2 linked regions of the Homo sapiens genome follow. The protein of the gene in region 2 purifies or fractionates together with the protein of the main gene of each other region. This does not show direct contact. Each region holds a gene or a part of one and is shown on either strand. Other genes may lie near its edges.

What was found.
Region 1: the proteins of C1GALT1 (region 2) and GDPD5 purify together in Homo sapiens (co-immunoprecipitation; one large-scale study listed by IntAct). This does not show direct contact.

The regions. Positions count from the first base shown.
Region 1 is NC_000011.10:75,438,653-75,442,466, forward strand, and holds part of GDPD5 (glycerophosphodiester phosphodiesterase domain-containing protein 5), read right to left. Parts: coding exon 3,711-3,814; intron 3,152-3,710; coding exon 2,994-3,151; intron 2,659-2,993; coding exon 2,511-2,658; intron 1,310-2,510; coding exon 1,227-1,309; intron 1-1,226. UniProt on the Homo sapiens protein: Glycerophosphodiester phosphodiesterase that promotes neurite formation and drives spinal motor neuron differentiation.
Region 2 is NC_000007.14:7,185,360-7,189,173, reverse strand, and holds part of C1GALT1 (glycoprotein-N-acetylgalactosamine 3-beta-galactosyltransferase 1), read right to left. Parts: intron 3,791-3,814; exon of another isoform or gene 3,697-3,790; intron 1-3,696. UniProt on the Homo sapiens protein: Glycosyltransferase that generates the core 1 O-glycan Gal-beta1-3GalNAc-alpha1-Ser/Thr (T antigen), which is a precursor for many extended O-glycans in glycoproteins.

The sequences.
Region 1 (3,814 bases), on a different chromosome or scaffold from region 2:
TGGGTCCCTAAGCTCTAGGTCCCATCCTGGAAATTCATGTTGAAACCCAGAAGGACAGTGTCAGGCCAGGGTCTCTCGGCCAGGCATATCCAGAACAGGAAGCTCAGCCACTGTGGGGTCCTCTGAGGGGAATGAGGAAAAGGCTGTGTGTTGCGGGGAGCAAAGCAGGGATGGGTGTTAGAGATAGAATGTAAAGAAGAGAGAGAAAGAGATGGGAGAGGCAGAGAAAGGTAAACAGGAAGAGTGAACAGTGGGAGAGGCAGAGCCAGGGAGGGAGAAGATGGGAAGAGAGAGGCAGAAACTTGGTAGGGTCTGCCCTGGGCAAGTGGTGAAGGCCCCTGTAAGTGCCAGAGGCAGGGGGATGGGGGTACCCAGGCAGGGTCCCCTCCCCCAGGGAGACACTTTGGTGCAGAGAGGGGCCAGGTCAGGAAGCTGTCAAGGAAACGCTGGTCCCCACCTGCAGAAACGGCCGTGGGAACAGGGAGCAGAGGGACACACACGGCAGTGGGACGGGAGGAGCAGAAAAGAGGATTGCGGGGGTAAGGGAGGCTTCAGGCGAGCGCGCTGTCTGCGAGGTGGCCCGGGCACAGGGCTTGGTGCACGGTGGGTTTTTAGACAGAACTGGAGAAGGGATGGCAAGAGGGAGAAAGAGGAACAGAAGGAGGAGGAAGACCACACCAGAATTACCTGATCAAGTGATAGCTGTGAGATGCCAGAGTGCAGCAGAGAGAGGGGGAGGGGGAGAGAGGAGGGACATGCGCCGATCAGAGCAGGATGGGACAGAGAGAGAACATCAGTCAAGAATAAAATCCCAGCCCCTTGGTTCCTGGCTGGGTGGGGGCCCCAGGCTGGCCCTAGACCCTCCCTGGGACCAACCACACCTCCCCACTGCGAGCACACCCCAGCTATCTTGCTGAGGGCTGGTGGGAACCCATGCCCTGGCTAACAGATGAGCAGGCCAGCCCGGTGAGGAGCTGAAATTCACCTAAGCCCACATAGCCACCCAAGGCAGAGCTTGGCTCTGGGATCCCAGCTGCATGTTCATTCCAGAAGTCACCCAGCCTCTGTCTGAGGGAGGATGGGGCCACCGGAGTCCGTCCTTCTTCCCTGGTCAGGCCTGCTCCTGGCTGAGGCCCAGGGCTCAGGAGAGGGTTCACCTGGCTGGGGTGGGGGCTGGGCCTGCTGCAGGGTAGGGACAGCCACGGAAGTGGTCAGATCCTACTCACTTCTGGAGCACGAAGATGCCCACGATGAGGGTGAAGGAGACCAGGTCGGCAGTGACCCACATGAGACAGTACTCGTCCGGGGGCTGTGGACAGACGGCCCGAGGCCAACTTCCAGTCATGGCCAGTCCAGACTGAGGCTCCAGACTGAGGGTCCGTGGACCAAAGGACCCCACATGGCCACTGGGGAAGGGCAAGGGAGGACCCTGAGAGGGTCTGGGGGCTGAAGATGACATTTTGCAGGTGTAGGCTCCAGGCGCTGTGGGCCTGGGGGCCGGGGCGTGTGTGTGCACACGTGTGCACTCTCAGGGTAGGAGGGGACTGTATGGTGCTCAGGGCAGAGGGGTTGTGTGCTAGGCCTGCAGGGTCTGTGTGTCTAGGGTCCTCAAAGCAGGAGCCAGATACTGAAAGACAATGGCTTTGCCGCCCCCCGCTGCCGACTCTCATCCATCGGTCTCGACCCTTTCCCCAGGCTGCCTTCCCTTCACCCTCCTCTCCCATAGAACCATCCACAGCTTAGGTCTGATTCATTGGCACTGCATTCTCTCAGCCATAAGGATACCCTCCACCTGCCTTCTGCATGCTCAGGGTGACAGTGGAGCCACCACCTATCTGCAGGTGCCCAGTCAACCAGCTAAAATATTGCTTTATTTGCTGTTCTCTGAGCAGATTTTAATTGTTTCCTATTCTTTTTTATTTTTATTTTTTGAGACAGGATCTCACTTTGTCATCCAGGCTGGAGTGATCACAGCTCACTGCAGCTTTGACCTGCTGGGCTCAAGCAATCCTCCCACTTCAGCCTACCGAGTAGCTAGGACTACAGGCGTGTGCCACCTTGGCCAGCAAATTAATTAATTATTATTATTTTTTTTTGTAGAGACAGGGTTGCCCAGGTTAGTCTTGTACCCCTGGGCTCCAGTGATCATCCTGCCTCTGCTTCCCAAAATGCTGGGATTATAGGCGTGAGCCCCACGCCCGGTCAATGCTTCCTATTCCTGTCCTTGTTACCCTCCAAAGCAAAGAAACCCAAGCAGCTCTTTACTTCTTTAGAGCCCTTAGTGATGCTTTTCTCCCTGTGGATGAGGCCCAGGGTCCTCCCAGCACCTTAGTGCAGATCCCAGATGCCATGAAACCCTCATGCCTCAAGCCTGCACGCCCACCATGGACTCCCCACCATGCTAGAGACCTCCCAGGGACAGCTCCAAGCACAGAGCTTGCCGAGTGGTCAGGGCAGGCTATAGGCAGCTCCAGCACTGCCCCCCAGGGGCCCTCTGCCCCCCAACTCACCATGATCCAGAGGGGGGAAGGCACCTGGGACAGGGCGTGGGAGTTGTCAGAGGTGACGGATGGGACCCCCGCACACCACAGCAGGGAGAAGAGCCACGGTGCGTTGACTGTGTAGAGGTTCACACTCAGGTTCCAGGACGCGTAGTCCCTGTGGGGCAGGGGAGAGGCAGGTCAGCATGCGGACCCTGGCAGCTCCAGGCCCAGTGTCGGGGCTGGTAAAGCACGTCCTGTTCACGACCTCACAGCCATGCCCGGGGCAAGGAACATTGGCTCCAGAGGGCCAAGCTCCGGGACAAGCCCGGGTCTGCCCGACACGCTCACCCTCTTGTCTTTGAACCATGTGTGCCTGATTCCTCTGTGTGCCCATCCCTCTGCCCGACCGTGTGTGTGTGTGTGTGTGTGTGTGTTGGGGGGTGGTGGTGGCAGGACTGGGAGAGACTCAGTCCCACCCTCTCCTGGAGGAGCCCAGGGCAGGGCAGGCACCTGAGCTCCTGGCGGGACACCTGAGTGTAGCGCAGGTTCAGCCGCTGGATGTGGCCTCTCCGCAGGCTGGCGACTGCCTCCTTGGAGCCTGATGTCTGTTGGAAGCCGGGAGCCACCTTCCGCACCAGGGGCCTCTGCCTGCTAGGCAGCCACATGACCTGCAGGCAGAAGAGAGGCAGCCTCAGACTTCTCTTCTGCACGATGCGTAAGAGTACCTACTCCTCCTAGAGCACCTGTGGGGTTAAGAGACAGGACCTGGCAGGCGGTGAAAGCTTAGATGAAGTCATTAGCAGGGCAGGACTCAGTCCCAGCCAAGGCTGCAAAGTGCACTGGCAGCAACTCAGGAAACTTCGCTTCTGGCCTGCTGTCAGTACGGGAGGGAAAACCCAAACAGCCACTACTCTGCACATGGCCACTAGCACCTAGTGTGCCGTCCTAAACTGATGTCAGATTTCTCTGGTCCCAGATTATTACACCAAACGACAGGGCAACACTTCACTGAAATAACTTGACCGCCTGGACCTTTATACATTTTAAAGTGTTTTCTTGTTCCCCTCTTGTCCCATGATGACCCTGCCAGGGAAGTGAGCAGTGTGTGATCCCCATTTTACAAATGGGAAAGCTGAAGTCCGGAGTGCAACAGGGAAAGGCTATGCAGCAGCAGGGCTCTAGCCAGGCCAGGGCTCCCGGGGGCAGAGCTGCGTTGCAGGGCCTCACCTGGTGCTGGGGGAAGCCGGAGTGCAGCACGGCCTCCAGAGTCACGTTGATAAAACTGCTGCGGTAGGGGTGCTCCCGGGGCGGGTCACGCAGGTTGAGCAGCA
Region 2 (3,814 bases):
AGCATAGAATAGTAGTAGCTGTTAAAAACAATGATCTACATGTGCTGATAGGGAAAATCTTTGTGCTTTTGACAAAGGTTACTTTTTATTGTTAATAAGGTATACTGGGTATTTTTTTAAACATCAGAAAATGTAAAGAAAACAAAAGGAACAAACCTAAACAAATGAAAGAAAATCATAGACAGAAAAGAGTAAATTTTCTTTACCATCTCTACCACTATCTCTCCCCAAAAGTAACTGCTTTCGTATCGTTGGGTAATGCCTATATCATCACATATGTATGTTCAGCTTTTAATTTACATCAGAGATCATGCTTATCGGTTAGTCTGCACTTTAATTTACCCCTTCACTTATTTTATCCATAACACAATGTCATTCATTTTAACAACTGTATAAGATAAAAGGTTTATTTTTTAAGACAATGTACCGAAATATTTTCTAGTATGATTTCACTTGGCTTTTTAAATGTTTCTGTATATATTTTAAAATCTGTTAAGATATATATACATATGATATTTAACAAGAGCTATCTCTGGGAACTAGCACTGGGTGGCATGAGCAAGGAAGGACAAATTTTTTTTTATTTTATAACCTTTTGATGTTTTAATTTTGCATCGGGTACACACATTACTTTTCTGATAAAAATTAAATAAAGGGAGGCAATTTTTATCTACAGAGTGAAATAATATGATAAAAATTAAAGTCCACTAATTTCTCCACACTTGTCAAACAAAATGATCTCTTGATCCTTTCAGACTTCTCCAAGTTTCAGATTCACATACACAAATGCCTGCTAAATACTTCCACCTGGACCATAGGCATCTCTAATTCAACACCTCCAAAGTGACTCATTACTTTCCTCTGCTCATTTTACCTTAATTACTGGTAATTACCTAAATTATTCACCAATGGGTTCCTATTTCACTCAGAGCCACAGGATTATCTAAACTACAAAGTACACAGATATTCTTAATGCTTCCCTTATCTTCACCCCAAATCCAATTACCAAGTCTTGCCAACATTACTTCCTAAATATTATTCTAATCCATTGTCTCCTCTCCATTTCTAGTATTTATCCTATTTCAGACTCTCCTCTCTCCCCACAGGCTATTACAATATCTAACCTCTCTGACTCAAGTGCTATCCCTCTTTAACTCATACCCCGTCACCAGAATGAGCTCTCTAAAATGAAAAGCTGACCATGTCACCCCATGAATCCTTTCACGGAACTCCACTGCCTACAAGACAAAAACTAAACATTTTTTATTAACATGATATATAAATAAAGGCTATGACCTAGAGCCTGTCCAGGTTTCCAGCCTCGTCTTTTGCTATTCTGTGCCTTATAATTTATGTCTGCTTCAGCAATCCTGAACTGTCTACAGTTACTGAAAGGTTCCCAATATGGTCAGCTCCTCTTCCTACTGTCTTCTCTGACTACAACACTTGCTTCCCACCAACCTCTGTAAATCCCATTAAACTAAGGTTTCTTAACCTTGGCGCTACTGACATTAAGAGCTGGATAACTCTCTGTTGTGGAAGCCGTCCGGTCCTCTGTAGGATATTTAGCCAGCATCCCTGGCCTTTACTCACTAGATGCCAGTAGTATTCCCCCTAGTTGTGACAAACAAAAATGTCTGTAGACATTGCTAAATGTTTCCAGGTAACAACCTCTCCACTAATTTGTTAAAACTGTTTCTCACATTTACATAAAAGATCTCCCCTGTCTCTACTAAAAATACAAAAAAAAAAAGAAATTAGCTGGGCATGGTGGCAGGTGCCTGTAGTCCCAGCTACTGGGGAGGCTGAGGCAGGAGAATGGCGTGAACCCAGGAGGCAGAGCTTGCAGTGAGCTGAGATCGCGCCACTGCACTCCAGCCTGGGCGACAGAGTGAGACTCCGTCTCAAAAAAAAAAAAATCTCAGGAAGAATAGAGATAAGACTACTTTTAACACTAATTGCCTTTGAGGAGGACAACTGGGTAACTGGAGTGGGATGAAAAAAACTTACTTTTCAAACCATTTACTGTGCGTTTTTAGTCTTGTACCTCTTCTGACTTCTCCACTGCTATCACCCTGGTCTGAGCAACCTCTCTGTCTTTTAACTACTCCAACAACATTCTAACCAACTTTCCCCTTCCTTTAGCCTTTGCTTCTTTGGCCCATTTTTACCAATAGCCACAATGATCCTTTTAAAACTGAAATCAGATCACATCACTCATTTGCTCAAAACCCTCCCGTCTTCCTAATCTTAGAGAGCCAAAACCTTACAAGGATCTACCCACAATCTGCATCCTACTCCACCCCTTTCTTTCTGATCTCTTCTCCCCAGTATTTGGTGTTTTTGTAGGTCAAAAATGAACAAACAGCAGCAATTTCATAGATTGAACCTAATACTAACTGCTTGTCATTCCTCAAACGTGCCAGGGTCTTCACACTTAACTGTTCTCTGCTAAGAACACGCACCCAGGTGCTCATATGGCTCACTCTCCAACTCCTTCAGGTCTTTACTTTTCAGGAGTCTTCACTGGCCACCCTATGCTTACCCACAGCACCTATTAATATCAAATATTATTTTACTTATTCATCTTGTTTACTGTCTCTTTTCCATCTTGATCAGTGGTTCTGAAACCTGAGTCTCCATCAGAATCATTTGGAAGGCTAGTTAAATAAAGAGTTCTGGGATGGAGCCTGAAAATTTCAATTTCTAACAACTTCCCAGGTGATGATGATGCTGCAGATCCAGGGACCACATTTTTAGAACCCGTGTTTCAGAATGTAAGCTCCATGAGGACAGAGATTTTTGCCTATCCACTGTTTTATCTCCAGGACCTGGCACATAGTAAGCACTTGCTGTGGTCTGAATGTTTGTCTCCTCCAAAACTCATGTTGAACCTTAATCACCACTGTGGCAGTATTGAGAGCTGGAGTCTTTAAATGGTGACTGGGTACTAAGGGTTCAGCCCTCATGAATGGGTTATCATGGGAAAGGAACTGGTAGCTTTACAAGAAAGAAAGAAAGAAAGAAAGAGTTCTGGGCTAGCATGCTCGGCCCCCTCACCATGTGGTGCCCTGTGCTATCCTCAGGACTCTGCAGAGTCCCTACCAGCAAATGCCCTCACCAGATGTGGCCCCCTGAACCAGGACTTTTCAGCCTTCCTAACTGTAAGGAATAAATTTCTTTTCTTTATAGATTATCCAGTTTCAGATATTCTGCTAGAGGCAACAGAAAACAGATTAAGACATCACTGATATATGTAAATAAATGTAAGTGTCCCATCCTGTTTCCACTATAGCCTCTGATTCAGTCTATAATGCTAAACATTTACTGAACGATGTAAAAGATAAACCGTGCAACTGTTACAGGTTAAACTGTGTCCCCACAAAAGATAGGTTGAAGTCCTAATTCCAGTACCTCTGCACGTGACCTTATTTCAAAATAGGGTCTTTGCAGATGTAATCAAGTTAAGATGAGGTGATTAGGGTGGATCTTAATCCAATACGACTAGTATCCTTGCAAGAAGTGGAGCACACCATCTGAAGACAGAGCCACACAGGGATTATGTTGTGATAACAGAGTCACAGACTGGAGTGACATAGCTGCAAGCCAAAAAATGCTAAGGATTGGCAGTAACACAACAAGCTAAGAGGCATGGAACAGATTCTCCCCTCGAACCTTGAGAGAGCATGGCCATACCTACATCTTGATTTCAGACATCTTGCCTCCAGAACTGAGACAATAAATCTGTTGTTTTAAATCACCCAGTTTGTCGTATTTTGTTACCGCAGCCCTAGAAAATACAATGACCAAGAAT